7 linked regions of the Homo sapiens genome follow. The protein of the gene in region 6 purifies or fractionates together with the protein of the main gene of each other region. This does not show direct contact. Each region holds a gene or a part of one and is shown on either strand. Other genes may lie near its edges.

Region 1 (4,320 bases), on a different chromosome or scaffold from region 6:
AACTACAAAAATTAGCTGGGCATGGTGGCAGGCACCTGTAATTCCAGCTACTCAGGAGCTGAGGCAGGAGAATCGCTTGAATCCGGGTGGCAGAGGTTGCAGTGAGCCGAGATTGTGCCATTGCACTCCAGCCTGGGCAACAAGAGTGAAACTCCATCTCAAAATAAATAAAGTAAAATAAAAATAAAGATACATTCATATGTGGTTAAAGTAATTTTTGAAAAAGCAAGGAAAGGAAAAATAAGATTCAGAGTGGCGGCTGCTCCTGGCGGGGTGACAGGGGTGTAGGAAGGAACGCACAGGTAGATCAATGGCTGGTAACATTTCAGCTCCTGTTTCAGTGGTAGGTTCATGGATAGTCATTTTGCTTTCATGCTGCATAACTTACATACTTATTATAGACATTCTTATATGTAAACCCCTACATAATTTTTAACATATTTGAAGTTCTTATGAGAATAGAAAAACCAAACAGAGTAGACATTCTATAAGTGGTAGTTTCCATTACCACTAATATCCCAGCTGGGAGGATATAAACTGCCCTTTCATCAAATTGATTAATAAATATTTATCAAGCAACTCCATGTTCAGTGTAGTGATGTTGGAGGTGGGTGTGCACAAGAAGGAAGTCTACGTGCCTACGAACTTGCTTAGTAGGGCCCATGATTGGGAAGCTCTCTTTTATAGTGCCCCACCCTGCCTCCACGTTTCCTTGCCAGGGATGCCCTGCTGGTAATCCAGTGGAACATTCGGGCCTTCATGGGGGTCAAGAATTGGCCCTGGATGAAGCTCTACTTCAAGATCAAGCCGCTGCTGAAGAGCGCAGAGACGGAGAAGGAGATGGCCACCATGAAGGAAGAGTTCGGGCGCATCAAAGAGACGCTGGAGAAGTCCGAGGCTCGCCGCAAGGAGCTGGAGGAGAAGATGGTGTCCCTGCTGCAGGAGAAGAATGACCTGCAGCTCCAAGTGCAGGCGGTGAGGCCACGTGATTATCTCTTCAGCCCTCTCCTCCCCTCCCCTAGATTATAGCCCATCTCACAACCAGGGACTGGGAGTCTAGGAGTGCCAGCTCTTTTTAAGACCCTAGGTCTCCTCTCTTTAACCATCAGCTTCCTCCCTGTTCTCTTCTCCCAGGAACAAGACAACCTCAATGATGCTGAGGAGCGCTGCGACCAGCTGATCAAAAACAAGATTCAGCTGGAGGCCAAAGTAAAGGAGATGAATGAGAGGCTGGAGGATGAGGAGGAGATGAACGCGGAGCTCACTGCCAAGAAGCGCAAGCTGGAAGACGAGTGCTCAGAGCTCAAGAAGGACATTGATGACCTGGAGCTGACACTGGCCAAGGTGGAGAAGGAGAAGCATGCAACAGAGAACAAGGTGAGGGCAGCTCCCTCTGGCTTCAGCCCAGGTCTCCTCAAGACTCCCAGACTAGAGTGTTGTCCTGGTCCTTGGCATGGAGGTCCCCATAGATGTCTCCAGGCTGGTGATCTTTGACCCTAAAGGGGATGGGTTTTTGGTCGGCAGGTGAAGAACCTAACAGAGGAGATGGCTGGGCTGGATGAAATCATCGCTAAGCTGACCAAGGAGAAGAAAGCTCTACAAGAGGCCCATCAGCAGGCCCTGGATGACCTTCAGGTTGAGGAAGACAAGGTCAACAGCCTGTCCAAGTCTAAGGTCAAGCTGGAGCAGCAGGTGGATGATGTGAGTAGTAAGAACCATGCTCCTGCTCTCAGAGCAAGATTTTGCAGGCAACACCAATGGCCCAGAAAGTCCTGATCCCTAGAATTAACTTCTATGGCCCCTGAAGCTTTTTTGCTCTCTGTAGTTCCTCACTACAGTAGGTCTCTGAATCCTTTGTGCTTGCAGGATTTCTCTGTTGGTTTGACTTCCAATCCCACTGGACTTCAAGTTTAGAAGGAGGCAAAAGAGCATACACTATGGATTTCATGTTTTCCACACTTTGCTTATTTTCTTCCCTCCAACAGCTGGAGGGATCCCTAGAGCAAGAGAAGAAGGTGCGCATGGACCTGGAGCGAGCAAAGCGGAAACTGGAGGGCGACCTGAAGCTGACCCAGGAGAGCATCATGGACCTGGAAAATGATAAACTGCAGCTGGAAGAAAAGCTTAAGAAGTAGGAGACTGTGGTGGCCAGGAGGGGCTAATGGAGGTGTCTGGCCTGGTAGATAGAGTGCAGGGTGCTGCGCCTCCACTGGCCACAGTTGCCTTGGGTATGCTGGGAATAAGGTCAATCACAGCCCTCTTCCGCCACTTTCTGGGCTGGCGAGGGGAGGGGGAGGTGCCGATTCTGGCATACTAAGGCCAAGAAGAGAATGAGCCCCAGAGGAAGGAAGGCTACCTGTCACTCCCCCACCCCCACCCTTCTCCTGCAGGAAGGAGTTTGACATTAATCAGCAGAACAGTAAGATTGAGGATGAGCAGGTGCTGGCCCTTCAACTACAGAAGAAACTGAAGGAAAACCAGGTGACTTTTTTTCCCAGTGCATGAAAGTGGGAGCTCAATAGCCCTGAGGTAACTGAGGCTGCAGCAGCTGCTTAGGGTTCTACACAATATCTGGAACTCCAGGCAGCCTCATAGACCCAACCATCCCTGACTTACAGGCGCTCAGGAACACTAGCCTTCCCCCATAGAGCAAGAATACATTACGTTAGCAAAACTGTTTGAGAAGGGGGACTCATACCTACTAAAGGGCTTCTCCTTCTGAGATCTGCTCTGCCTCAGGGACTTTCTACTCTAAGACAAATGATAGAGCTCTATTCTCCTCTAACCCTTCCTCTGGTAGTTCAGCCCTCTGAACGCAGGGTGAAAAAAAAAAAAGGCTTCAAGGAGCACCTTCCTGTGAGCTGCTCTGTTCATATTCTTCCCGGTACTAACCCCAGCCACTAACCCAGGCTGAGTCCCCATAGGGCACTCATGATAAGAGCCAATTCCAACAACTGTGAGCAAGTCACTTACCCTCCCTGATCCTCAGATTCTCTTCTCACCTGTAAAATGAGACTGACAATACCTACCACACAGGACCAGAGGGGATAATGTATTTGAAACCATTTTGTCAACTAGGAAATTCTATACAAGTATCATATTAATATAGCCCAATTTAGAGAAGTCAGCCAGCCACTAGCCTAAGAAGGTATTGTTTTGTCTTCTCAATGGCCTTCTCATTCCTCTGCAGCTCAAGATTTAGTGAACAGCCATAGTCTCCCTTAGCTTTAATGAACCTCAAACCCTAATGTGCTTTTAGTATCGGGTTTGTCAGAAGAGACCTGGAAGTCCACTGCCATCCCCATTATAGAGCTACAGAAGCTACATGGCCAGGTCTGGACATAGTGACCCCAAGGGCAACAGGAACTCGGCTACTGGGGCGGGACCTTGTCCTCTCACTTTGGGGCAGACTGTGGCTGGTAGAAAGAGGTAGTCTCCCCTCTGCACTTGAGGCCCATGGCCCAGGCTGCAAGTAATGTATGAACACAATTCCACTCCTCTGGGGCTGCACAGGGACTGGCCCGCCTTCATTAGTAATTTGCCCTCCCATCTTCTTGGATGCCCCTTCTGGGTTTTAGCTAGAATATCGGGCCATCCTCAGGTTCTTCTACCCTAGGTCTGGGCAACTTGTTTGGCCTCTTGGACACAGAATAACAGTCCTGTTAGTCTCATCAGCTCTCGGCAATAGGCTATGGCTCCTCCTTCATCCCCAAGATCTTGCTCAGAAGTCCCACCTTCTCCATCCTGGGAGCAGAGGCATGGTGGTCCTCTCTGCTGCTTGTAGGACCCATCCATGAACAGTCCATTAAAGCTGTCCATAACCCGAGGTGAAGGGATTTCCACTGAACCCCCGTTTTGCTCCTGGCTAGCCAGACAACAGATCAAAATGGTAGATACGATATTCTCCCAATTTAGTCAAGACCAAGGCTAAGGCCCAAAAAATGAGGTAAGGGCACTTAAAGAGGATAAGGAGATGAGGTGAAGAGGAGAGTAGCCTGCTAGCACTTTCCTGGCCTGGAAGGGAGCAATCATGTTGAAACCCAGCCCTGGGCATAAACACAGCAAGCCTGGGAGAGCAAGGAATATGGTTGATTGGACTTTGTGGTTAACTTGGAGAATTGCAAAGGTATCTGATTGTTTCGAGGCATGTTGTCACAAATATTTGTAAAATACAAGCACTCATTTTCCCGTCTTATGAATAGCGCAACAGAGCCTAGTGAATCTGGGGACTCTGAACTTCTTGATCTCACAGGATACCAGGATCCCCCTTCAACCACAGGTTCTCAGGATTTGGGGCTGCAGATGCTCACACTGGGTCTG
Region 2 (4,320 bases), on a different chromosome or scaffold from region 6:
AATACCAGCCAGAAGAAATATCTTAAAAATACATTACCTTTCAGGTGGTGTAAGTCAGTTTGGACAGAAGGCACACTGAAAAATGCTTAAGTATTATTTGTTCTTTATAATTTCTTGTTTAGATTTTAAGACCTTTATCCTAAAGAATGTCACTCCTTTCTTCTTAGTGTACCTCGGTATGATCAACCACCTCCTGTCACATACCAGCCACAGCAAACTGAAAGAAATCAGTCCCTTCTGGTACCTGCAAATCCATATCATACTGCAGAAATTCCTGACTGGCTTCAGGTTTACGCACGAGCCCCTGTGAAGTAAGTACATTTACAACACAAATTTGTTTGAGGAGTGAGTGAAGGGCTGAATGGAGTCTCTGGGCTGCTCGATCCAAGTAGTGTGCCATATTTTACTCTTAATAATATTCGGCTTCTAAGTAATACGTGACTTGAATAAAGGATGTCATAGTTTATAATGTGTGAAAATCATTAATTAGAAATATTAGTTCTTCAGACATTTATAGAATCTTCATTTCTTTGTGTGCGGGCCTCTGCTATTAGGGATACAAGTAAGAAACTTACATTCTCATAGGAGAAGATTAATTTGTAAATAAGTGATACAGTACTTGTGATAAAAGTAAGGACCTGGGCTTGGCACAGTGGCTCACACCTGTAATCCCAGCACTTCGGGAGGCTGAGGCAGGAGGATCTCTTAAGTCCAGGAGTTCGAGACCAGTCTAGGCAACATAACGAGAGCCCCATTTCCACAGAAAAATTTTAAAAATTAGCCAGGCTTTTTGCATGGTCTGTAGTCCCAAGTACTTGGGAGGCTGAGGTGGGAGGATAGCTTGATCTGAGGAGTTCAAGTTCAGCCTGAGCAACATAGCAGGACTCTGTCTCTATAAAAAATTTAAAAATTAGCAGCATGCTGTGGTGTATGCCTGTGATCTCAGCTACTTGGGAGGCTAAGGTGGGAGGACTGCTTGAGCCCAGGAGTTTGAGGCCGCAGTGAGCTATGCTTGTGCCACTGCACTCCAGCCTGGGTGACAGAGCATGAGAGACCCTGACTGCCCCCCTACTAGTGCCAGAAAAAGGAATGATAGCAGATGGCATTTTCTTTCCTATTTTCCTCTTTTCTTTGTCCCTTGATACCACCTGACCTACAGCTGTATGTTTGTATGCTGATTCTAAATAGTACATAATATCTGTATGCGTTTTTATTTTCCTTAAATCTGGAAGAATATGTGCCTAACTGTTAACCTTAGTATTTCTGGGGGTGGATATGGTTGAGGAGAGTTATTCTTTCTGTTGTATGTTATTTCTACTCTATAGTCATGTTTAATAAGAAATAGCATAATCTTTCCTTTTTGGGGGAAGAGATAGTACTTAAATGGAATTCCTGGTTTCTTACAGAAAGAAACAGATTCCTGAAGATTATAGTCTTTTTGAATTCTGTGGTTCTGTGAGCTAACTATAAAACTCAAGGAAACTAGCAAATAGGTTGTAATTCTTCCAAAATGGGCCAGACTGACAAAAAGGGAGCAAGTACTATACTTCTTTACTGCTTAAAAACTTAAACAAGAGGTCTGGAAGCCTGTTGCTTTCTAGTTGATTCTAATTAATGTTGCTGAAGAGGATGGAAATGGTTAATATTCTATCAACAAAGGGTGAGTGGTTATCTATGAATTAGATAATGAGAATCAATTATCACAACAAAAAGAGACATTTTTGCAAAAAAAATTTGCATGTTTCTTCCTTTTGTTTTTCAGACAATTGAGAATCTGAAATTCTTTAATCCTGAAATTCTTTAATCCTATCTCTCACAGTAATTTACCAACACAATTTTTGCATATACTTCTAAAACTTGATTTAGAAACAGACTGTGTTTTAAATTTGTATTTAATTTTTGTAAAGTTATGTTCCTGTGTCTGCTCACAAAAGTCTATAATGCTTGGTATAACTGTACTCAAGCTGAACTATAGGATAAAATTTTAAAAGTTAGGCCGGGTGCGGCGGCTCATGCCTGTAATCCCAGCCCTTTGGGAGGCTGAGGCGAGTGGATCACAAGGTCGAGAGATCGAGACCATCCTGGCTAACACAGTGAAACTCTGTATCTACTAAAAATACAAAAAATTAGCTGGGTATGGTGGCACGCGCCTGTAGTCCCAGCTACTCGGGAGGCTGAGGCAGGAGAATCATTTGAACCCGGGAGGCGGAGGTTGCAGTGAGCCAAGATTGCGCCATTGCACTCCAGCCTGGGTGACAGAGCGAGACTCCATCTCAAAATAAAATATAATAAAATAAAATTTAATCTTTGACAGCAAAAACATTGTCAAGAACATATTTACTTTCTGTTATTTCTCACACACACACCAAAACACTAGTCCTCAGCAGTGTGTGGCAGGGGTATTTTTTATTCCAGTGGCTTGGCAGTCCTGCAGTGTCACCATTGACCCTGCTCTGGATACAGGTGAAAAAGAGGGAGGAGTGGACACAGTGTTATGGCGGGTGGGTGCAGGGGACTTAGGCTACATGGTGATACCTGGAGCTGAGGATAGCAGCACTGTTGATCTTGAAGTCAGCATGCAGTGTGGACAGGTTATTTTTGGTAGCATTATAGCAACTGGCATTTGTATATATGGCTTATTTATAAGTAGTATTTGAATAGAATACTGCCCTAGGAAAAACAGAGTGAAAGAGATGCTAGAAGCATGGACTACTGGAGTGTTTTACACCCAATTTTCGGAATGATTTACCTGTGTATATACAGTATAAATGACTAAAAGTTAAACTTGTGGAAGCAAATTTCTTGGCTAGTTAAGAAGGAAAGAATGGGAGTTTATACTTTTCAGAAAAAGAAGGAACACTTAGGTGATTATAGGCAGAAGGGTAGTAACTATGTAGAAGCAACAGAGGAAAGAATTTGGAATAGGATTTCCATTCCATGCTTTGCAGTTTTTTCACATCTGTGCCCTTCTTGGAGTGCACTTTCTTCCCCCAGAAGGATTTTCTCTAATCTGATTTTGTTGCTTCTACCCATAATCGTACTCTTGATGCTGAATGCTGATTGGCAAGTCAGAAACTTGGCCAGGCATGGTGGTGCACCTGTAATCCAAGCTACTTGAGAGGCAGAGTCAGGATTGTTAGAGCTTAGGAGTTCTGGGCTGTGATGCACTATGCCAGTCGGATGTCTGTACTCTTTGGCATCAGTATGGTGACCTCCCAGGAGCAGGGACCACCAGGTTGCCTAAGGAGGGGCGAACTGGCCCAGGTTGGAAAGGGAGCAGGTTAATACTACTGTGCCGATCAGTAGTGGCATTGTGCTTGTGATTAGCCACTGCACTTCAGCCTGGGAGACATAGGAGATCTTCATCTCTTAAAAAAAAAAAAAAAAAAAAAAAAACTGACAAAATTGTTTGAAGATTTTTTCTTCCTTTAGACAAAACTTGAATACTTATACAGAATGATATTCGTGTCTTAAAAATAAGTATAATATTTACCATCTTATTTTTGTTCTTTGTTTTCCTTGCTAGAAAGTACACAGATGATAGATTAGTTTAACATTGTTGTAGTTCACCTGGTATAAATGGTAACCATCTTGACTTAGTAGACATTGCTGAATTGCCTCTTAGCTAACTCTGGGAGATTAAGATTTTTTGTTAGGAATTATGAATTTGTTTCCAAGGAGCACATAAAATCTTAAGTTACAAGAATGGTGGATGTTCTAAGAAATACCTTATAACTGTTTCTTCATGGAGGCTCATTGAGTATTTCTTACAGTATCACTCTAATTTATGTTCACAAGTGGTTGGAGTTTCCCATTAAAAAGAACAGAGCTTCCTACCAAAGAAATCTAAATCTATTAATAAATTTGCAGCTCTCAAGTAACTGAGTGAAATTGGCAGTCCAATTAAATATATTTACCTTCCAGTTTTTGCATGTTGTATTACTGACATTTCTGTTACACATACTCAAGTTGAATAGAAACATGTCAAAATGCCAAGTATAGTGGCTCACACTAACTGCTCGGTATGTTTTCTATCTCCCTTTTTTAAAATCTCATTTTAAAATATTAGACAGTCCTTTTGAAAGAAAATGGTATAATATCAAAGAACCACTGGGTAGGAAATACTATAAACGATCATTAAAAATAATGCTAGAGTTTGCAATCAAAGCTTCCTATTATGTCTGCTCTGCAGTATGATTTGAGAGGTATAATTTCGGGTATAACATGCGTTTCCCTAATTCAAGTTCTTTGTCTAGTCTTAGTGGATATTAACATTGAAAACCACTATTTTGAAGCATCTTGGTCCATAGTTCTCTTCCT
Region 3 (4,320 bases), on a different chromosome or scaffold from region 6:
CCTCAGTATCCCTGGGAGTGACATCATGCGGGCCGACTACATCCCGAGCCACCGGCACAGCGCGATCATCGTGCCCTCGTACAGGCCAACCCCCGATTATGAGACAGTCATGCGCCAGATGAAGAGGGGGATCCTGCATACAGACAGCCAGAGCCAGTCTCTGAGAAACCTCAACATTATCAACACCCATGCCTACAACCAGCCAGAGGATCTGGTGTACAGCCAACCGGAGATGCGGGAGAGGCACCCCTACACTGTCCCTTATGGGCCACAGGGGGTCTACAGCAACAAACTTGTCAGTCCATCTGACCAGAGGAACCCAAAGAATAATGTGGTACCAAGCAAGCCGGGGGCAAGCGCCATCTCGCACACGGTGAGCACCCCAGAGCTGGCCAACATGCAGCTGCAGGGCAGCCATAACTACAGCACGGCCCACATGCTTAAGAACTATCTCTTCAGGCCACCGCCCCCCTACCCACGGCCACGACCTGCCACCAGCACCCCAGACCTGGCCAGCCACCGCCACAAGTACGTCAGCGGCAGCAGCCCGGACCTGGTGACCCGGAAGGTGCAGCTCTCGGTGAAGACCTTCCAAGAGGACAGCTCTCCGGTGGTTCATCAGTCTCTCCAGGAGGTGAGCGAGCCCCTCACGGCCACCAAGCACCACGGCACTGTGAACAAGCGCCACAGCCTGGAGGTGATGAACAGCATGGTGCGGGGCATGGAGGCCATGACGCTCAAGTCGCTCCACCTCCCCATGGCTCGCCGCAACACGCTCCGGGAGCAGGGACCGCCCGAGGAGGGGTCAGGCAGCCACGAGGTCCCCCAGCTCCCTCAGTATCACCACAAGAAGACCTTCTCTGATGCCACTATGCTAATCCACAGCAGCGAGAGTGAGGAGGAGGAGGAGGAGGCTCCAGAATCGGTGCCCCAGATCCCCATGCTCCGGGAGAAGATGGAGTACAGTGCCCAGCTGCAGGCGGCCCTGGCCCGCATCCCCAACAAGCCCCCGCCTGAGTACCCCGGTCCAAGGAAGAGTGTGAGCAATGGGGCTCTGAGGCAGGACCAAGCCAGCCTTCCTCCCGCCATGGCCAGAGCCAGGGTGCTGAGGCATGGGCCAGCCAAGGCCATCAGCATGTCTCGGACTGACCCGCCGGCTGTCAACGGGGCCTCTCTCGGCCCATCCATCTCGGAACCCGACCTGACTAGTGTGAAGGAGCGGGTCAAAAAAGAGCCTGTGAAGGAGAGACCTGTGTCTGAAATGTTTTCCCTGGAAGACAGCATTATAGAGAGAGAGATGATGATCAGGGTGAGTGTCCTCCTCTCCCAGGGCATTTTCCAGTGTGAAAGCACATGCTTCAGGCACTGAGCAAGGGGCAGGGCTTATGCAGGGAACGTGGTAGGTTTTTAAGGAATCATTGAGCATTTAAAAGGTAGTACTTTATTACACAAAATGTTGAGTTTTTGCCCTTTCAGATAAATCTTCCATTCTCATTTGTGGCTTCTAACAGGTGTACTTGGTACGTTATTGAGGCCAGTGCCTCAGCCAGCATTTTGCTGTTTATTCAAAGCTCAGACTTCCAATTGGGTAAGCTGGTATTGGGGAAGTTCACCTTGCTGTGTCTTTTAGTGTTTTGTTTTCTTGAAGGAAAGCTGTCCCCCACATCCAGTTAGGTATTAAAGAGCAACATCCCTATACCGCCTTCTGTATAGATCCGTAAGTCAAGACTCACCAGTATTGTCTGGACTGTGATATGTCTAGCTTTGTATTCAGATTTTCTTTCAATAGATGTTTCACACAGATTCAAGAAAATTATAGTAATTGGATATATAACTTAGTAATTGGATAAATAATTCTCCATTGAACTTATTCTGTCAAAAATTCACACACATACGTGAATACACACATACATATATACATACATATTACCACTTGAAGATCCATCCTAGTACTAGACATGAATAGCTCTTCTTCATAATATGTACAGAGCCAGGTATGGTGGGGGACACCTGTAGTCCCAGCTACTTGGGAGGCTGAGGTAGGAAGAGCACTAGAAGCCAGGAGTATGAAGCCAGCCTGGGCAGTATAATGAGATCTTATCTCTAAAATAAAATAATAATAAAAAAAGAACCAGCCAGACATGATGGCAGGAGCCTGTAGTCCTAGCTAATCAGGAGGCTGAGGTGGGAGGATCGCTTGAGCCCAGGAATTCAAGGCTTTAGTGACCTATGATTTTGCCACTGCACTCCAGCCTGGATGACAGGACTAAACCTCATCGCTTTAAAAAAATATATTGTACAATTTGGGGAGACAGTTAAGTTGTCAGAACAGGACTATGCAGGCACATATAGAACAACGAAGTGAATCTGCTCTTACTAATGAGAAAATGTTTGGATTATAGCTACTTTAAAAAATCTCGACTGGGCACTGTGGCTCACGCCTGTAATCCCAGCACTTTGGGAGGCCGAGGTGGGCAGATCACAAGGTCAGGAGTTCAAGACCAGCCTGACCAACATGGTGAAACCCCATCAGTACTAAAAATACAAAAATTAGCCGTGTGTGGTGGCGTGCACCTGTAATCCCAGTTACTCAGGAGGGAGGCAGGAGAATCACTTGAACCCACAAGGCGGAGGTTGCTGTGAGCCGAGATGGCACCACTGCACTCCAGCCTGGATGACAGAGCAAGACCCCGTCTCAGAAAAACAAAAAAAAATCTCCATTGCTGCTTGCCATGAACATTTTCACTCCTTTAAAAAAAACCTATTAACTAGAACTAATCAAAGCCAGATTGACTTCTCTTCATTCACCATGGCTGCACCATAAGGTAGCCAAGCCTAATTTTAGGAACTCCGAAACAGTTGTAACTTAAAATTTGCTTTGATGGATTCCATTAGGCCACCTTCATTTCCAGGTCTTCCTAACCCATCACTGGGATTCAACCTGAAAAGAACAATCAAGGCCCAAAGTTTTAAGGAAGCCAAGTTCCTGGGGTCAGAAATTGAATCTGTAGCAACCTTGTTACTTTTGGAAAACCTTAAGAACATTCTCAACCTCACAGTTCTGGCCAGCCCCACTAGAGTAGTGCTAAGAGATTTTTATACAGATATGACTTTTTGCAAACCTAGAAGGAAATTGTGCAAGGTGTACCTTTGCCTCTAGCAAAGAAAACCTTTGGCTTGGAATGGAAGAAATGGGTAGGTGCTGTTGGGAGAGAGCTTTCCCAGCATGGAATAAAGCAATTTATTGGTAGAAAATGATTTTTCAATACTTCTTCCAGACCACTTAAAAGCAACATTAGCATCAAGAACCTATCAGTCTAAGCATTTAATTTAGCTATTTCCCCTGCCAACTTGATACTTAATGATGTCCACATGGTCCCATAACCTCATTTTGGTTGTATTCATCCTCTTCTCTTGTTACTCGTATTAAACAAATAGCCTGTAGCCAAAATCTTGGCATGGGTCTCCTCCTTAGAGCTCCTTGCATTATCACAAAGGAACAAGGAGATTTTCACTATTGTTTTTTCTCCAGATGCTTTTCCATTCCATTCATGTGGGTAATAATGACTAGCAAATTTTAGCCATTAACCTTTAGTTCAAGAAAATAATTACCCCATTTCTACTTCATTTTCCCTGTTGATTTTTTTTTCCCCCAAATCTGCTACACTCAGGAGCTCAAGGACACCGGCAGACCTTAGAGTTGGATTAGGAGCTGCTTCAGTGAGCCAGGAGGCCAGGCAAGGTGGTGACAATGCCAGTGGCTTTGAGCCCAAGATGAGTCTCCATCTGTTTTGTTTTTAATGCAAAAACTCACCCCATAGCCTAAGCAACATCCCCACAGGTCAGATACTTCTCTGCTCTCCTCACTATGGGCAGCTTTTGCCAGCTTGATGGGAATTCATGAGAGGTGATGGCCATTCTAAGGGCCCTCTTGATCAGAACACAATGAGAAACTTTTAGCAAAAGAAAACTCAGGGGCTGGCGGGGTGTGCAGGTATGGTGAGAATTTGCCCTCTGGGCAGCTCTCCTGGAGCTGCTTGTCTGTTTGATGGATGGTTCCGCCGCTTTTATAGCTTCTCATTCTGGCTCCTACTGCTTCCTTGAAGATACTTCCCTGCTTGTAGTCCCCTAGCCAGAAGTTGATGCACTGAGAAGAAAAGGCCCTCTGATCACAGATCAGAGCTTGTGAATTATTATTATTTTTTTTATCTCTGGTAACAAGCTGATAGGGTGAGTGAGAAGGATCAAAGAGACATACTTTGATTTATCACTGAGTAATAATCCTTTCCCGAGAAAGACAAGTTAATTACTTTTTGTCTT
Region 4 (4,320 bases), on a different chromosome or scaffold from region 6:
TCTCTGCCACTGCCAACAATAATGCTGCCCAGTCCCTGTTACATGGTTAGCTGAAACCCAGGCATCTAGTTATACCTAATGCCACTGTCACAGGACTTTGGGCCGGGAAGGACCCTGAGAGGTCATCTTGGCTCAATAGAGCTAGAGGGACTTGCCCAACATCACACCCTGAGCTGCTGGTGGTATCAGGCCCAGAAGACCTGGTTTCCTGACTCCCAAATATGTGTCTTTCTTGCACAGTTCTGTCTCCTATGTGACAGTCACAAATCAACAGATGTAAAGAAACATAACTTTTTAAGACCCCTGGCAAGAATGATCATGTCAAAATAACCGTTTCATGTTCTGGACTGTTAATGGAAAGAGCAGGAGGGCTGGATGGAAGAAACAAGACATTCTTTCCTGGTCACAAAAGAACAGAGCAGAAACATACCATACCAAGGAGGGAGGACTCCAGAGAGAAAGCATGACGGGACAGGCAGACGCTGTGGGAATCCATGTCGGGACGCGCCAGGGCTACAGCTCCCAGCAGATCAGCCTGCTTGGAAGGGATTGGTGGCATTGGCAGCACAGCACTGGCCAGAAGAACATCCGTTGGGAGCCACCAAGGCAAGGACCTCAACAGGCTCAGAGAAAACAAGGCTGGGATGACGGGGAAGAAGGAGCAAGGTGAGGCACAGGAGGGGTGGGCCAGAGCGAGGGTCTCCAAGGTCACAGTGAGAGGAGTGTGAATCCATCGCACTGGCTGTCCTTCCCCACAGCACTCAACCCAGTGCTGAGAACACAGTGTGACCTGACACGTATGCATCATTGACCTGCTGATTGAGCAAAAAGATGAACCTATCTAAATGAAGTTTGAGAGCTTCCTCACCTCTGCCCCTGGAAAACTCTGAAGAGAAGTGCTGTGGAGAGAGATGGCATGCAGGGACGGGGCTGAGGCACATGATGTAGTCACATCCCTTCAGAGAACACAGAGGACCGAGACGGTATCCAGTCCTTGACCACTGACCACACAGGAGTCACCGCTGTTACAGGGCGAGCTTCCAGCCCAGGAGGACATACAGTGGAGGTGGCCCTGGGCAGACGGCACCAACTCCTTGCTGTCTCCAGCCCAAGCTTCACCCAGGTCAGCCACACGATCTCCATTCATCCATCCCCAAACATGCCATAATGTGTTTTTACATTTTCCAAGTTTTTAAAAGTTACATCAAATCCCATGTTTGTTTAAAAGCCCATTTTTGCTATCAGAAATCAGACAGCTGATCCTTGGACACTTGGTGGTGACTGTACAGGGGCACAAGGAGCGTCCTGGGTGATGGTCATGTTCTGCCTTGATCTGGGTGTTGGCTACACAGATGGGTTCACTTTGTGAACATCTATGATATGTGTACATCGTACATCAATAAAAGGTTAAGAATACATGTCTTCCTGACTTAGGAAGATTGCCTGGTCCATTAAAAAAATGCATGGGCTGGGCACAGTGGCTCACGACTGTAATCCCAGCACTTTGGGAGGCTGAGGTGGGAGATCACTTGAAGCTGGGAGTTCAAAACCAGCCTAAGCAATATGGTGAGACTCTGCCTCAATTTTTTAAAAGAATGCACAGAGACTGCCCGATGTCTAAAGGATTGGGCATCCCCATATCCCTGGGTGTGCATCTGCAGGGCCAGAGAGATTGGAGTCTTGAATGTCACTGACAAATGTTACCAGCAGAGTCAGAAATTTACTTCCATGTCAATGGAAACCTGGATTCGGCTGGTTCAAATTATGGCACATCTCCAAAAGGCATTCTGGTGGCAGTCCCCACGTCATCATATCTAGTCATGCCAGTCACTCAGACAGAGGCACACAGCTGTTGAGCTTCTGTCACTTTCTTCCACTTCAGCAGTTGGTTTGGGTTTAATGAAATGCCTGATATGGGAGGAGGCTGGTTAGCCAGTGCCTCTGGGGAACACAGACAGACCTCTGTTCTGGAATTCTGGAGGGGCTGCTTTATTACAAGACTAGCCCATGTTGTTTCCTTTTATGTGAAAAATGCTCGATTTTTTAATCTAGGCTGGAATTAAGCACCATATTTCAAGCATCTATTGCTAATAAAGTCTGATAAACAGTAATTAAAAAGTCATGAAGGGCCAGGTGCAGTGGCTCACGCCTGTAATCCCAGCACTTTGGGAGGCCAAGGCGGGCAGATCACCTGAGGTCAGGAGCTCAAGACCAGCCTGGCCAACATGGCGAAACCCTGTCTCTACTGAAAATACAAAAATTAGCCGGGCATGGTGGTGCGCGCCTGTAATCCCAGCTATCCAGGAGGCTGAGGCAGGAGAATCGCTTGAACCCGGGGAGGCGGTGGCCGCAGTGAGCCAAGATCGCACCACTGCACTCCAGCCTGGGTGACGGAGTGAGCCTCCGTCTCAATTTAAAAAAAAAAAAAAAAAGTCATGAAAACGAGGAGCAGCTCAGTGTGCAACAGACTGTCAGATGGAAGGGCATCTGTAGTCATGTAGACATGCAGATAGGGCATCTGTAGTCATGCAAATAGGACATGTAGGTACATAGATAGGACATCCACATGTTCCTTGCTTGGACTGCTCGTTTAACCCTGTGCATTGCCAGGAAAGTAAAATCAAGTAAGACAGGCTCCCTGGCCCCGGTCAGGGCAGGGCCATTCTCAGGAGGAGTCACACCTGCTTTCAGGATCCCAGGCTAAGGGGGGTCTGTCACTGCAGTTTTCTGGGTTAGGATACTGCTGAAAGGACATCCACCAAAGACAGAAAAACCAAACACAATGCCAACCCTTCCTTTCTCCATGCTGGTGAGGAGCAGGCCTGTCCATCCACTTCCTGGGTACAGGAGACCCTGGAACCTGCTTATTCTTGCCTTTCCCACCCCTCTGGTCCTAACAGCGAGCAGAATGTGGCTCTCTCCTGGTTAGCTTTAGCCGTGACAGATCCCCAGGCCCACCCACAGCAGGGAGGGTGAGCACAGGGGCTTCAGGTCCAGGGGACACAAAAGTCCACAGCCCAGGCCGGGCGCAGTGGCTCACGCCTATAATCCCAGCACTTTGGGAGGCCAAGGAGGGTGGATCACAAGGTCAGGAGATCGAGACCATCCTGGCTAACACAGTGAAACCCCATCTCTACTAAAAACATATATATAAAAAATTAGCTGGGCGTGGTGGCGGGCGCCTGCAGTCCCAGCTACCCGGGAGGCTGAGGCAGGAGAATGGCTTGAACCTGGGAGGCGGAGCTTGCAGTGAGCCAAGATCGCGCCACTGCACTCCATCCTGGGCGACAGAGCGAGACTCTGTCTCAAAAAAAAAAAAAAAAAGTCCACAGCCTGAAATATGGGGGAAGAAGGCATGGAAAACGCAAGGAGCCCACAAAAGCTCCCTACAGTACGTGGGTGGAGAATGAATCTGGAGGGGCAATAGAAGGCATCCACTCAGACGTGAGAGACCACCTAGTCCCACCATGCAAGTGGTCAGAGCAGAAGCAAAATCCCGACTGGTATGGGAGCACCACTACTTGTACCCATATGGTCTTGAGCAAGTCACTTAACCTCTCTGGCCTCGGTTTCTCAACTGTAAACAGAGAATGGTGCCTACATCAAAACTAAGTGTGCAGGTTAAATGCCAACAAGGCCCACAAAGCACTGAACTCCAGTGCCCGGCACACCACTGGCACTTGACACACGGTAGCTACTACTAGAACCATAATGCCCAAGTCACCCGCTCCTACCTGCCCCCAGGAAGGGGGCACTGTGGGGATGCTGCAAAGGCCCTTCGATGAAGGCGAGGACAGGGGAGGGCACAGCTGCTGGGGTGCGGCAGGCAGGTTGCCCTCCTGTCAGCCCCTGAAGAGACTATCCCAGCTGCACAGAGCTGCCTCGCCCAAAGTCACCATCTTCCTGGGCAGCCCACAGCCAACAGCTGATCCATGAGGGAGTGTGAAGGCCAGGCCATGTCAGGCCAACTAGGATGACCCTAAAGGACTTTTCCAGCTCCCAGGCTCCCTGCGGGGTCAGGTCCCAGCAGCTCAGCTCTCCTCTACCCACTCCTGATTCCTTCTCCATCTTCCACAGGTGGGGACCCCAAAAGCACCTTTTAATAAGCCCTTGTATGGTCAACTCTGTCTCAGTCAGCTTCCCAGGAAACCCAGCCTATGACAAGTGGTTTATTTGTGGGGTTTTTTGTTTTTGTTTTTGTTTTGAGACAGGGTCTCCCTCTGTCACCCAGGCTGGAGTGCAGTGGCATGATCATATCTCACTGCAGCCTCAGCCTCCTGGGCTCAAGCAATCTTCCCACCTCAGCCTCCCAAGTAGCTG
Region 5 (3,905 bases), on a different chromosome or scaffold from region 6:
TTTCTAAAGATTACACATATTTCAGAAAGACTTTACCCAATTCAGTTGTCAGACATAATGATTTATTTGAAGGCTTGTTTTATTTGAAGAAAAGCATATTGCCAAAAATTCTGGTTAAAAGCTTCCTAACGGGTAACAGACCATGGGAGAGATATGTGGTTGGGTAATGCAAATGTAGTTATACAAAGAAAAATACAGATGTCTCCAGACCTGAGGACTTTTTAATAGGGCAGTTGTTGTGTTGGTGGCACATTGGATATTTCTAACATGTACAAAGCTATGTATTTTGATTTACTTTCATTTCTTGCTATGTATATGTACTTTTCTTAAAATGCCAAGAACTTTCTCTTGCTATCATTGCTCCTTTTGAAACAATTCAATTTTCATGTCTACAGCTGACTGTTTTGTTAAGATTGAGTCATCGACATTCAGGATTTAAGTCTGAGGTAGTCAACCCTCAGGAAAAAAAAAATGGCTTATCTGAAATCAGTACTGTGGAAATGAACTATATTAGCTATTATGAATAATGTCCAGTATAAGAATATGCTTCTGGAATTGAGTTCTCCTTTTAAGTACCAATGATACTTAAATTTCTCAGAAATGTAATGGTGTGTCATTGCCTTGAAATGCTTGCTTAGGGCTTCTTTTATGTTATCTTAAAAAGTGCTGGTGAATTTTCCATTTTTTACATCCATTTCACATGTAAGAGACAAAAAAGTCTAGATTGGTCTTGATATTGAGATAATAAAAAGTAAGTAGCATTAAGAAAGGTAACAATCTTCATTCTACAGATGAACTCATTGAAACAATTTAGGGGAATGAGGGGCAAAAGGGGAGAAATACTGCTAAAGAACATGAGCATAAAAATGCGTGCGTTTCAGTGTTTAAGAAGGCTTGATAAAGAATGTCACTTTTTTATTTAACTGATAAGATTTTTGTTATTTTTTACTTTGATAAGTAAACCAAAGAATATTTGTATTTCAAGCAGTTTGTGTGGTGTTTCTATATAATTTTCTGTGTATAAATAATAAAGTAGGCATTTGTTTATTTTGTAAAAAAGAAATGAAAATCTGCTGGCCAGCTATGTCCTCTAGGAAATGACAGACCCAACCACCAGCAATAAACATTTCCATTGTCACTGTGTCTATGATTTTTTTTTTTTTTTTTTTGAGTCTCGCTCTGTTGTTTAGGCTAGAATGCAGTGGCATGATTTTGGCTCACTGCAACCTCTGCCTCCCAGGTTCAAGTGATTCTCCTGCCTCTGCCTCCCAAGTAGCTGGGATTACAGGCATGCACCACCACACCCAGCTAATTTTTGTATTTTTAGTCGAGATGGGGTTTCACCATGTTGCCCAGGCTGGTCTTGAACTCCTGACTTCAAATGATCTGCCTGCCTCGGCCTCCGAAAGTGTTGGGATTACAGGTGTGAGCCACTGTGCCTATGATTTAGTGTACTCTCTTGCCTTAAATTTGCCTGCCTCCCAGAATATTGACATTAAAATAATAGTTTACCAGGAAAGGTTCCACAACTAAAAATTCCAGAAGTTGAGATCTGCTCTAACCCATTTCAGCCTAGAGAGGGTGGTCAGTTTCTCTGACACCCTCATTTGCTTGGCTAAGACAAGCAGCAAAGGTGTAGAGTTTCTTCCTGTTTGATATTAAATCCTGACACTAAGATTTGAACTGAAAGTATCATTCTCACTTCCTAGAGCCAGTAGGTGATCAGTATATGCTGTAACAATAACACAGTGACTACAGAAATGACCCTTCTAGCTTCATAACTTGCTAAGTGGCTTATAAATGGAATTCAGCAGCCTTCCTTGACCAGCTGTTTTCCTCACATGTGAAGGCTGAGAATGTGATGGGGGGTGTGAGCTACTGACTGGATGTGTTCTGTTCTCCAGATCTCAAACAGCAGAGGTATGGGAAACGAAAGCCCTGGGCAGTCCATGGATGCTTCTTGCTCATCTGTAGCTATAGACAGGACCAACCAGAGAGAGAAAACGTACGGAGGGAGAAATCTGGATCTCTCTGGACACACTGGATCATAGGGTTGTGCCAGCAGGCTAGCAATCAAATGTGCATGGGATTGGGGGAGCAATGCTTCATCTCCCACAGAGGGAAGGCAGTGAGGAGTAGACCGAAGGAGGGAATCCTGTTTGCTACCATTTCTCAGCATTTTCTGGAGGGGACCCATCTCCTTACCAGTGCTGTGCCTGAAAAGCATGTCTTGGATCAGGTCCAAAGTCGTGATTAGCAAGTTCATTTCTAATACAATAGGACTCCCCTTGAGCATTTAGGGTGGCAAGGAGCGTGGGAGCTGGGAAGAATCCCCACGTGCTTAGGGTAGATAAATCTGAGCCGAGTTAATACTAATTTGGGGATCCTATGAACCTTTTTATAAAATAGTATCTGTTCACGTTTTGAAAAAAATTGTGTTGTAATTGATTTTATTTTGTGCTGGTGGCTTCTCTGCAAAAATTATGAGTGGATATGATAAGTGGATGATAATACTAATGGACAACTAACGCAGAGTAGTTTGTATTATGTGTCGGGCACATTAACTCATTTAATTCTGCCACAATCTTCACCATCTTATAGATAAGGAAACTAGGGGAATAGAAGTTAAGGAATTTCCTGAGGTCACATGTGCTCGAGGTGTCCCAGCCGGAATATGTATAAAATCTTATTTTCACTTAAAGATGATATGGCTAAAGGCAGTGCTAGGAACATCTTTGGCTCAGAGAAGCGTGGGCAGTATGCTGCTGAAATGGTTCCTCATATAGTGACATTTTAGGCAGTACCTAAGTCAGCACAGGTCTGGCCTGTTCTCTAAAGATCTGTGTAGATGTTGTACAAAGACATTTTTCAAAGTTTTCAACATGACTCCTACTTTGGGGGCATCTTGTGGCTCAGTTTTCTGTCTCGTGGAACTTCACTTCTAGGTGCTCACAATGACTTTTAACGTTGACTTCTGAGGTGCAGTGAGCTGCTCCCCCACAGCTGTCCCTAGCAGTGGTGGGTTCAGAGCATGACAAGGCACTCAATGTGCATTCACCAAGAGAAGCAAGGAAGCAGCAGTTCAGTACTGTGCTCCCTAGAGTAGGCACGGCATCAGTTTCAAACTTCAACATTATTTTCCAGATTTGGAGGCTCAAAATATTTGAGCAAGTTAAGTTAAGAAATAGCCTTTTTCTGATTATTAGGCCTTTCATATACAACTCAAAATTAGTTTAAGAGTAAAGCATGGGGTGGGTGCGGTGGCTTATGCTTGTAAGCCCAGAACTTTGGGAGGCGGAGGTGGGAGGATCACTTGAGGTGAGGAGTTCGAGACCAGCCTGGCCAACGTGGTGAAACCCCACTGCTACTAAAAATACACAAGATTAGCCAGATGTGGTGGCAGGCACCTGTAATCCCAGCTACTTGGGAGGCTAAGGCAGGAGAATCGCTGGAACCTGGGAGGCAGAGGTTGCAGTGAGCTGAGATTGTACCACTGCACTGCAGCCTGGGCAACAAGAACGAAACCCCGTCTCAAAAAAAAAAAAAAAAAAAAAAAGCATGAGTTAAGAACTTTGATCGTACAGAAATATTGCGTTTTAAACTCTTATATAATAGTATGCCATTCACAATTATCTGGAAAGTTCTTTTTCTCCCACCATGTGAATACACACACACACACACACACACACACAATTTTTAAGCCCCCAAAGGCTTAAAATAGTACTTTTTGTGGTCTGTACCGGTCAGTTGGATTTTTACTAAGAATTTTAATTTATCCTTGAGATACTTGATGAGTGTATATAAGCAGTTGCAATTTAGCATACAAAACCTGACAAATGGTAAATAAAAGAATATGTTTATCCAAATGATGAAATATTTGTAGTAAAAAGTGCTATTCAATTGCC
Region 6 (4,320 bases):
TGATCTCGAACTCCTGACCTTGTGATCTGCCCGCCTCAGCCTCCCAAAGTGCTGGGATTACAGGCATGAGCCACCGCACCCGGCCTATAATGGCTACTTTCAAGTTTTTGTCAGAAAATTCTAGCATCTATGTCATATCAATACTGACTTTTTCTATGTTGAAATTTTCTGTTTTTGTTTTTTGTTTGTTTGTTTTGTATACTAAGTTATTTTGGATTGTATCCTGGACATTTTGAATAATATGTTATGAGACTCTGGATTTTTTTTTTTTTTTTTTTTTTGGAGACGGAGTCTCTCTCTGTCACCCAGGCTGGAGTGAGTGCAGTGGTGCGATCTCGGCTCACTACACCACCCAGGTTCAAGCGACTGTCCTGCCTCAGCCTCCCAGGTAGCTAGGACTACAGGCGTGTGCTACCATGCCCAGCTAATTTTTGTATTTTTAGTAGAGACGGGGTTTCACTATGTTGGCCAGGCTGGTCTCAAACTCCTGACCTCAGGTGATCTGCCTACCTTGGCCTCCCAAAGTGCTGGGATTACAGCGTGAGCCACCGTGCCCAGCCAAGATTCTGGATCTTATGGAGAATTTTGACCTTGTTTTGACAAGCATTAAACCCGGTTGGGTTCAGGCCACAAGTTCCAACCAGTCTTTTTTGATTTCAATGTCAGTTTCAAAGGCTTTTCCTTTCTAGGCAGATAGATCTCTTTGTAGGCTGTGGTCTTTTCCTTAGTTCAGTTCTCAAAGTCTTTGGTATGCTCCTTAGGATTAGATCCACATAGTTACAGTTTGGAGGGGGAGCCCAGCAGTTCATAAGCAACTTAATGGGGTCACTTGCCCAATCTCCTCCCTCTCTGTGATGTCCCCAGTACTTTCCTGTTCCCTGGGGCTCCCTATTTAGTTCTCTGACCAGAAAGTGAGGCTTTACTTATCCAACTCTGCCAATATCTCATAACTGCATCTGAATCCAGGACAAGGTGGCAAAAGGACACAGAGAGAAAACGAGCAACAGAGATTCAACCCATCTTCTTGGGACCCCATGCTTTATTAATTTATATATTTATGAGATATTGTCTCACTCTGTCACCCAGGCTGGAGTGCAGTGGCACAATCTTGGCTCACTGCAACCTCTGCCACCTGGGTTCAAGTGATTCTCCTGCCTCAGCCTCCCGGAGTAGCTGGGATTACAGGTATGCACCACCACACCCCACTAATTTTTGTATTTTAATAGAGACGGGGCTTCACCATTTTGGCCAAGCTGGTCTCGAACTCCTGACCTCAAGTGATCCACCCGCCTCGGCCTCCCAAAGTGCTGGGATTACAGGCGTGATGAGCCACTGCACCCAGCCCCATGCTTTGTTATTTTATTTACAATTGGAGAGGAAGGTTTGGCTGTCAGTTTTAGGTGCATACTGGCTCTTATTGCCACCTCCGTTGCTACCAGGAAACTCCTTTTCTACTCCCTGAGCCTGAACTAGAGGGAATTCTCCTAGAGCTCTCTGTGCTCAGCTTCTTCCAAGTTTTGGGCTACCTTGAGTCCAGCCTGCAGACTACTAGAGACAAAAAAATGGAGCTGGGTGTGCTGGCAGAGGCCTGTAGTCCCAGTTACTCGGGAGGCTGAGGTGGGAGGATTGCTTGAGGCTAGGAGTTCAAGACCAGCGTGGACAACATAGTGAGAATTAATTTTTTAAAAAAATAATTTTTTTTAAATGGTCACCAGGTTTAATGGTACTTCAAATTTACATCTTCTCCCCTAATCTACCTGTTATTATTTACTTTTCAGGATCTTGAAGTAGCTGCTTCCTGCATCCTGACCAGGTTTTATAGCTGCCTTCTGTGGGAGGGAGACAGGAGAGTATATGTAGTACATCTTCCTCAAAACTGGGACCTCTCTGGTTGCTTTTAGGGTTTTCTTCTCTTTAACTTTGGTTTTCTTCAGTTTGACCATGGTGTGCCTATGTGTAGTTTTCTTTGTATTTTTCTTGGTTGAGATTCACTCAGTTTCTTGAAATGTACATTAATGACTTTCATCGATTTGGGGAAATTCTCTGTCATTATCCCTTCAAAGATTTATTTTGCTTTCTTACCTTTTGAGACTCTAATGATTATACATGTGCTATTCCTTTGATACTGTCCTCCATTTCTCTTATGCTTTATTCTTTCTTTTATTCTACATGTTTTCTCTCTGTGCTTCAGTTTATATAATTTTATTCATCCATCTTTGAATTATCTGAATCTTTTGCTGTGCTCTTTTTTTTTTTTTTGCCTTAAACTGAAAAATCCTAAATATACCTTAAAATAAAAAATATTAAACTTGGCCAGGCACAGTGACTCACGCCTGTAATTATAGCACTTTAGGAGGCCAAGGTGGACAGATCACTTGAGGTCAGGAGTTTGAAACCAGCCAGGCCAACATGGTGAAACCCCGTCTCTACTAAAAATACAAAAAAATTAGCTGTGCGAGGTGGCGGGCACCTGTAATCCCAGCTACTCAGGAGGCTGAGGCAGGAGAATCGCTTGAAACCAGGAGGCAGAGGTTGCAATGAGCCGAGATCACGCCACTGCACTCCATCCTGGGCGACAGAGCAAGACTGTTTCAAAAAAAAAAAAAAATTGTTCATCTCATTGTGTATATTTTTTATTTCTCCTGTTTGAAATAAGTGATGAAACTGGAAGCATAAATAACTATTATTAACTGTATCATTTTTTTTTTCCAAAAAGGGTTTTTAAAATATTCTATTATTAGTTGAAGCCTCTCCATTTTCTAATCTGGGATAAGACTTTAAAAGGAACAAATAATAGACGAGGGAGTATATTTTTCTTCCCTCTATAGTAGCTGACTAGCTCCTCTACAAATAAGGAAGATTATACTGTTCATTTATTCAGCTTTTTAAAAAATATTTATTGACTGCCTACCATGCAACAAGTTGAAGATTTTTTTTCCCTCTTTTGAGACAGGGTCTTGCTCTGTCGCCCAGGCTGGAGTGCAGTGGCACAATCACGGCTCACTCTAGCCTCGACCTCCCTGGGCTCAGGTCATCCTCCCACCTCAAGTAGCTGGGACCACAGGTGTACACCACCAACCTGGCTAACTTTTGTATTTTTTGTAGATATGGGGTTTCACCATGTTGCCCAGGCTGGTCTTGAACTTCTGGGCTCAAGCAATTCATCTACCTCGGCCTCCCAAAGTGCTAGGATTACAGGTGTGAGCCACAGTGCCTGCCCAAGTTAAAGGTATCTAAACTTGGTTAAATGACAATGCATTCTACCACTTAACAGAGTTTGCCCCAAATCCATTTAATATCGTACTTGGAGTTGTATACCAATTCCCCTGCCTCCAAGAGTTCAGCGGGAGAGACTAGGTAGTCTTAGGTAGTCTGGCTTCACTTGGCATTCCTTTCTTCATCATTTCATTTTATTCATAACCAGAGATTTTTCTTTTTTTTTTTTTTTTTTTTTGGAGACAGTGTCTCGCTCTGTCACACAGGCTGGAGTGCAGTGGTGCAGTCATGGCTCACTGCAGCCTCAAACTCCTGGGCTCCAGGAATCCTTCTGCTTCAACCTCCTGAGTAGCTAGGACTACAGATGCATGCCACCATACCTGGCTAATTTTTAAAGTTTTTTTGTAGAGAGGGGGTCTCGCTTTGTTGCCCAGGTTTGTCTTGAACCTTCCCGGCTTCAAGCAGTCCTCCCACCTCCGCCTCCCAGGGTGCTGGGATTACAGGCAAAAGCCACCACGCTTGGCACCAGAAAAAGTTTTATCAAACATGTATTAAGTATGTGCCAGGCAATTTACTGAGCACTAGGAGATACAAAGACCACTAAAACATAATCCCTAGCCTTAATGGATATATTTCAGTAGGACATAAACATAAATAGGTACCACAAGCTATTAGAAATATGATAGAAATAAATATATGGTACAGGGGAGGCAGAGTAGAAGTAGTCACTTCTACCATAGGCCAAAAGGTTTACTAGGGGAGATTAAAACTGACAGTGAGTCTTATAATGTGAGTAGAAGTTGCTTGGAGAGGATGGGATAGGAGAAAAAATTATTTTCCAGCAAAATATCATGTAATTTATTTAAAATACAAAAATAGCCCAGTGAGACTTTTGGTATAAAACTTGAAGGAAATCTTTATTTTTCTAATTTATCTCTTCCCCCTAATTTTAAAAAATCTTTAAAGGTTATCAACTGGCAAACATCTCTTCACATTCCACCACAAGCTAAACTCAGTCCTGAAGCTTCTGATCTTATTATTAAACTTTGCCGAGGACCCGAAGATCGCTTAGGCAAGAATGGTGCTGATGAAATAAAAGCTCAT
Region 7 (3,478 bases), on a different chromosome or scaffold from region 6:
TCAGGCTGGTCTCAAACTCCCAACCTCAGATGATCCACCCACCTCGGCCTCCTAAAGTGCTGGGATTACAGGCATGGGCCACTGCGCCAGGTCGTTTTTGTTTGTTTGTTTGTTTTTTGTTTTTTTTGAGATGGAGTCTCGCCTTGTCGCCCAGGCTGGAATGCAGTGGTGTGATCTTGGCTCACTGCAACCTCCGCCTCCCGGATTCAAGTGATTCTCCTACCCCAGCCTCAGCGTCCCAAGTAGCTGGGATTACAGGTGCGCGCCACTATGCCCAGCTAATTTTTGTATTTTTAGTAGAGATGGGGTTTCACTATGCTGGTCAGGCTGGTCTTGAACTCTTGACCTCGTGATCCGCCCGCCTCGGCCTCCCAAAGTGCTGGGATTACAGGCGTGAGCCACTGCGCCCAGACTTTTGTTTTGTTTTGTTTTTGAGACAGGGTCTCTCTCTGTCACCCAGGCTGGAGTGCAGTGGTATGATCTCGGTTCATTACAACCTCCGCCTCCCGGGTTCAAGCAATTCAGCAATTCTCCTGCCTCAGCCTCCTGAGTAGCTGGGATTACAGGTGTGAGCAACTGCGTCCAGCCCTGGCTTTTTTTTTTTTTTGGTAGAGTCGGGGTTTCAGCATGTTGCCCAGGCTGGTATCGAACTCCTGAGCTCAAACAATCCACCTGCCTTGGCCTTGTAAAGTGCTGGGATTATAGGTGTGAGCCACTATACCCAACCTTGATTGGCTTTTGAAGAAGCTGTTATTTCCATTTTACAATTGAGGAATCTAAGGCTCAGGGTGGTTAAGCCATTTGCTCAGGGTCACCCAGCCTGTAAGGGGGCTGAGCCAGGAGGAAATCACAGCCTCCTGGACCTTACTCCAGAGCCTCTGTCTTCCCAGGCTGCTGACCATTCTGTAGAGGGAAGCAGCTGCCCCTGCTCTCTTTCATTGCTGTGGGGCAGAAATTGGGCAAATGAAGACCTATCTAGCACTAGATACGGTGGGTAGATAGGGCAAAAAGGGAAATGGCTCCTACTTCCCAGGACATGAGTGATGGGGTCTGGCCTGTGCTTGGCCAGGGGTACAGTCCCAGTGACTCTGATGAGCTGTCAACAGGGTAGACAAAAGGCCAAAAGTGAAGTAAACAGAGACAACCGGAGCCAGTAGCAGGATGTTTGTTGGGTAGGGGGCTGGGGAGAAGCTGCCCCTGGGCATTCTGGGACTGAAGAGCTGAGACGTGGGGAGCCTGATCCAGACCTGCTGACTCAACAAGGTGGGGCCACAGCTAGGAACAGGACTCCCAGGGGCAGGCCACTGCCTCTCTCCCTCTCCTCCCTAAACCCCCTCATCTTTCAGGGCTGCACCGCCTACCGTCTCCTTCAAGGCACTTTCTTAGACACCCAGGCACCAGGCAGATGCACCCCCCAACACACCCACCCCAAGCAAGTCACAAATCAGCCTGCTCCAACTGTCTTATGGGGAGGGTGTGAGAGAGGTGCCCAAAGGCCCCTAAAAGGTGAGCCTCTCCTCTCTCCCCACAGGGGTGAATGTGATGCTGAGGAAGATTGCTGTGGCTGCAGCGTCCAAGCCAGCAGTGGAGATCAAACAGGAGGGAGACACTTTCTACATCAAAACCTCCACCACCGTGCGCACCACAGAGATTAACTTCAAGGTTGGGGAGGAGTTTGAGGAGCAGACTGTGGATGGGAGGCCCTGTAAGGTGAGTGCCAGAAGGGGCTCCAGGGTCATGGCGTCATTGCCCTGCCTCTCAACCTGCCATTTTCCAGGCTAGCAGTTAACTCCTAGCTTCTCTCTGTCCCAGTAGGGAAAATCCCTAGGTGGTGGTGGGGGCTAGAAAGGGGCTCTCTCCCTTATCCCTCTCACTGCATTGCCCCTGCTATGGGCCCAGCTCACTTGGCCACCTGTCTCTTGCAGAGCCTGGTGAAATGGGAGAGTGAGAATAAAATGGTCTGTGAGCAGAAGCTCCTGAAGGGAGAGGGCCCCAAGACCTCGTGGACCAGAGAACTGACCAACGATGGGGAACTGATCCTGGTAAGTCCTGCCTCCTCCCCACTAATAGCAAACCCAGTGCTACCTTCCAAGATTCTCTGGGAGACCCCAGGGTGCAGGAGACTCAAGAACAACCATGGCTGGACTCCGCACCCTGCTGATGGGACTGCTTGAACAGAACTAAGGTGTCCCTATCCCATACAGTGCCCTGTGTGAATTAGAAATGGTGTTCCTTTTATGCAAGCAAAGGGCATGTACTGAGGGATCCCAGCAGTTCTTCAGGGAGATCTTCCTGGCTTGAGGAGGAGGACGGGCCCCAGGGGCTCTATTGCTATCCTCCCTCCATTGATGCCTGGGCATTCTGGGACCAGCTCCTGCCTGTTGGTCTTGAGCCAAGAAGCAGGTTTGGACCTGGAGGCCAAGCAGAGTACCTCCATTCAACCCTCCTCTCCAAAGCCACAGGACCCCAGGGGCCTCTCAGGCTAACAACTACTTCTGTCCTTCCAGACCATGACGGCGGATGACGTTGTGTGCACCAGGGTCTACGTCCGAGAGTGAGTGGCCACAGGTAGAACCGCGGCCGAAGCCCACCACTGGCCATGCTCACCGCCCTGCTTCACTGCCCCCTCCGTCCCACCCCCTCCTTCTAGGATAGCGCTCCCCTTACCCCAGTCACTTCTGGGGGTCACTGGGATGCCTCTTGCAGGGTCTTGCTTTCTTTGACCTCTTCTCTCCTCCCCTACACCAACAAAGAGGAATGGCTGCAAGAGCCCAGATCACCCATTCCGGGTTCACTCCCCGCCTCCCCAAGTCAGCAGTCCTAGCCCCAAACCAGCCCAGAGCAGGGTCTCTCTAAAGGGGACTTGAGGGCCTGAGCAGGAAAGACTGGCCCTCTAGCTTCTACCCTTTGTCCCTGTAGCCTATACAGTTTAGAATATTTATTTGTTAATTTTATTAAAATGCTTTAAAAAAATAAAACCTGTCTCTGGCTCATTGGGCAGGTAGATAAGTCACCTGAGTTCAACCTTGCCTCTGAAATGTAGTATGGGAAAGACTTGTGTTTCTGCAGCATGGAACTGAGTTATACAACAGGAGAGGACAGTCCTTCCAGTCACCGTTCTAACCACCACCCCTTCGTTTGCTGCTGAATCCACAAGCCTCACCTCCACATTCCCTTCTCCAAGGTCCTTCCTTGGTGTCCTGCTCTGGCTTCCAAGGTCACAAGGGCCTCCTCCTCCTGACCTCTCAGCTGGGGCACTGGGCTCTGAGGAGCTGACTCCCACCTTCTCCCATGTTTTCCATCATGGTGACAGTTTCCTCCTCCTCCTCCAGCTGTTGCTTCCCTCTCCTCCAGCTTCAGCCCATGGGTGACCCCAGGCCTGGCCTTGGCCTCCCACATGGTTCCAGATGAGCTCAACGGCACCCACAAGCTGGCCTTGCAGCTGCCTGGGCCTCTGGGTGAGAGGTCTCATCCTGCC

The links.
Region 1: the proteins of LATS1 (region 6) and MYH6 purify together in Homo sapiens (affinity purification with mass spectrometry; one large-scale study listed by BioGRID and IntAct). This does not show direct contact.
Region 2: the proteins of LATS1 (region 6) and SAV1 purify together in Homo sapiens (affinity purification with western blotting; 3 studies listed by BioGRID). This does not show direct contact.
Region 3: the proteins of LATS1 (region 6) and PTPN14 purify together in Homo sapiens (affinity purification with western blotting; 2 studies listed by BioGRID). This does not show direct contact.
Region 4: the proteins of LATS1 (region 6) and LIMD1 purify together in Homo sapiens (affinity purification with western blotting, with the first as the bait; 2 studies listed by BioGRID). This does not show direct contact.
Region 5: the proteins of LATS1 (region 6) and TNFAIP8 purify together in Homo sapiens (affinity purification with western blotting; 2 studies listed by BioGRID). This does not show direct contact.
Region 7: the proteins of LATS1 (region 6) and CRABP2 purify together in Homo sapiens (affinity purification with western blotting; one study listed by BioGRID). This does not show direct contact.

What each region holds. Positions count from the first base shown.
Region 1 is NC_000014.9:23,390,723-23,395,042, reverse strand, and holds part of MYH6 (myosin-6), read left to right. Parts: intron 1-719; coding exon 720-975; intron 976-1,134; coding exon 1,135-1,377; intron 1,378-1,524; coding exon 1,525-1,701; intron 1,702-1,985; coding exon 1,986-2,131; intron 2,132-2,390; coding exon 2,391-2,481; intron 2,482-4,320. UniProt on the Homo sapiens protein: Muscle contraction.
Region 2 is NC_000014.9:50,636,741-50,641,060, reverse strand, and holds part of SAV1 (protein salvador homolog 1), read left to right. Parts: intron 1-167; coding exon 168-311; intron 312-4,320. UniProt on the Homo sapiens protein: Regulator of STK3/MST2 and STK4/MST1 in the Hippo signaling pathway which plays a pivotal role in organ size control and tumor suppression by restricting proliferation and promoting apoptosis.
Region 3 is NC_000001.11:214,380,300-214,384,619, reverse strand, and holds part of PTPN14 (tyrosine-protein phosphatase non-receptor type 14), read left to right. Parts: coding exon 1-1,309; intron 1,310-4,320. UniProt on the Homo sapiens protein: Protein tyrosine phosphatase which may play a role in the regulation of lymphangiogenesis, cell-cell adhesion, cell-matrix adhesion, cell migration, cell growth and also regulates TGF-beta gene expression, thereby modulating epithelial-mesenchymal transition.
Region 4 is NC_000003.12:45,600,948-45,605,267, reverse strand, and holds part of LIMD1 (LIM domain-containing protein 1), read right to left. Parts: intron 1-4,320. UniProt on the Homo sapiens protein: Adapter or scaffold protein which participates in the assembly of numerous protein complexes and is involved in several cellular processes such as cell fate determination, cytoskeletal organization, repression of gene transcription, cell-cell adhesion, cell differentiation, proliferation and migration.
Region 5 is NC_000005.10:119,393,462-119,397,366, forward strand, and holds part of TNFAIP8 (tumor necrosis factor alpha-induced protein 8), read left to right. Parts: 3' UTR 1-3,905. UniProt on the Homo sapiens protein: Acts as a negative mediator of apoptosis and may play a role in tumor progression.
Region 6 is NC_000006.12:149,662,101-149,666,420, reverse strand, and holds part of LATS1 (serine/threonine-protein kinase LATS1), read left to right. Parts: intron 1-1,778; coding exon of another isoform or gene 1,779-1,901; exon of another isoform or gene 1,902-3,105; coding exon of another isoform or gene 3,106-3,204; exon of another isoform or gene 3,205-3,229; intron 3,230-4,182; coding exon 4,183-4,320. UniProt on the Homo sapiens protein: Negative regulator of YAP1 in the Hippo signaling pathway that plays a pivotal role in organ size control and tumor suppression by restricting proliferation and promoting apoptosis.
Region 7 is NC_000001.11:156,699,106-156,702,583, reverse strand, and holds the end of CRABP2 (cellular retinoic acid-binding protein 2), read left to right. Parts: intron 1-1,531; coding exon 1,532-1,710; intron 1,711-1,925; coding exon 1,926-2,042; intron 2,043-2,507; coding exon 2,508-2,558; 3' UTR 2,559-2,978; downstream 2,979-3,478. UniProt on the Homo sapiens protein: Transports retinoic acid to the nucleus. Regulates the access of retinoic acid to the nuclear retinoic acid receptors.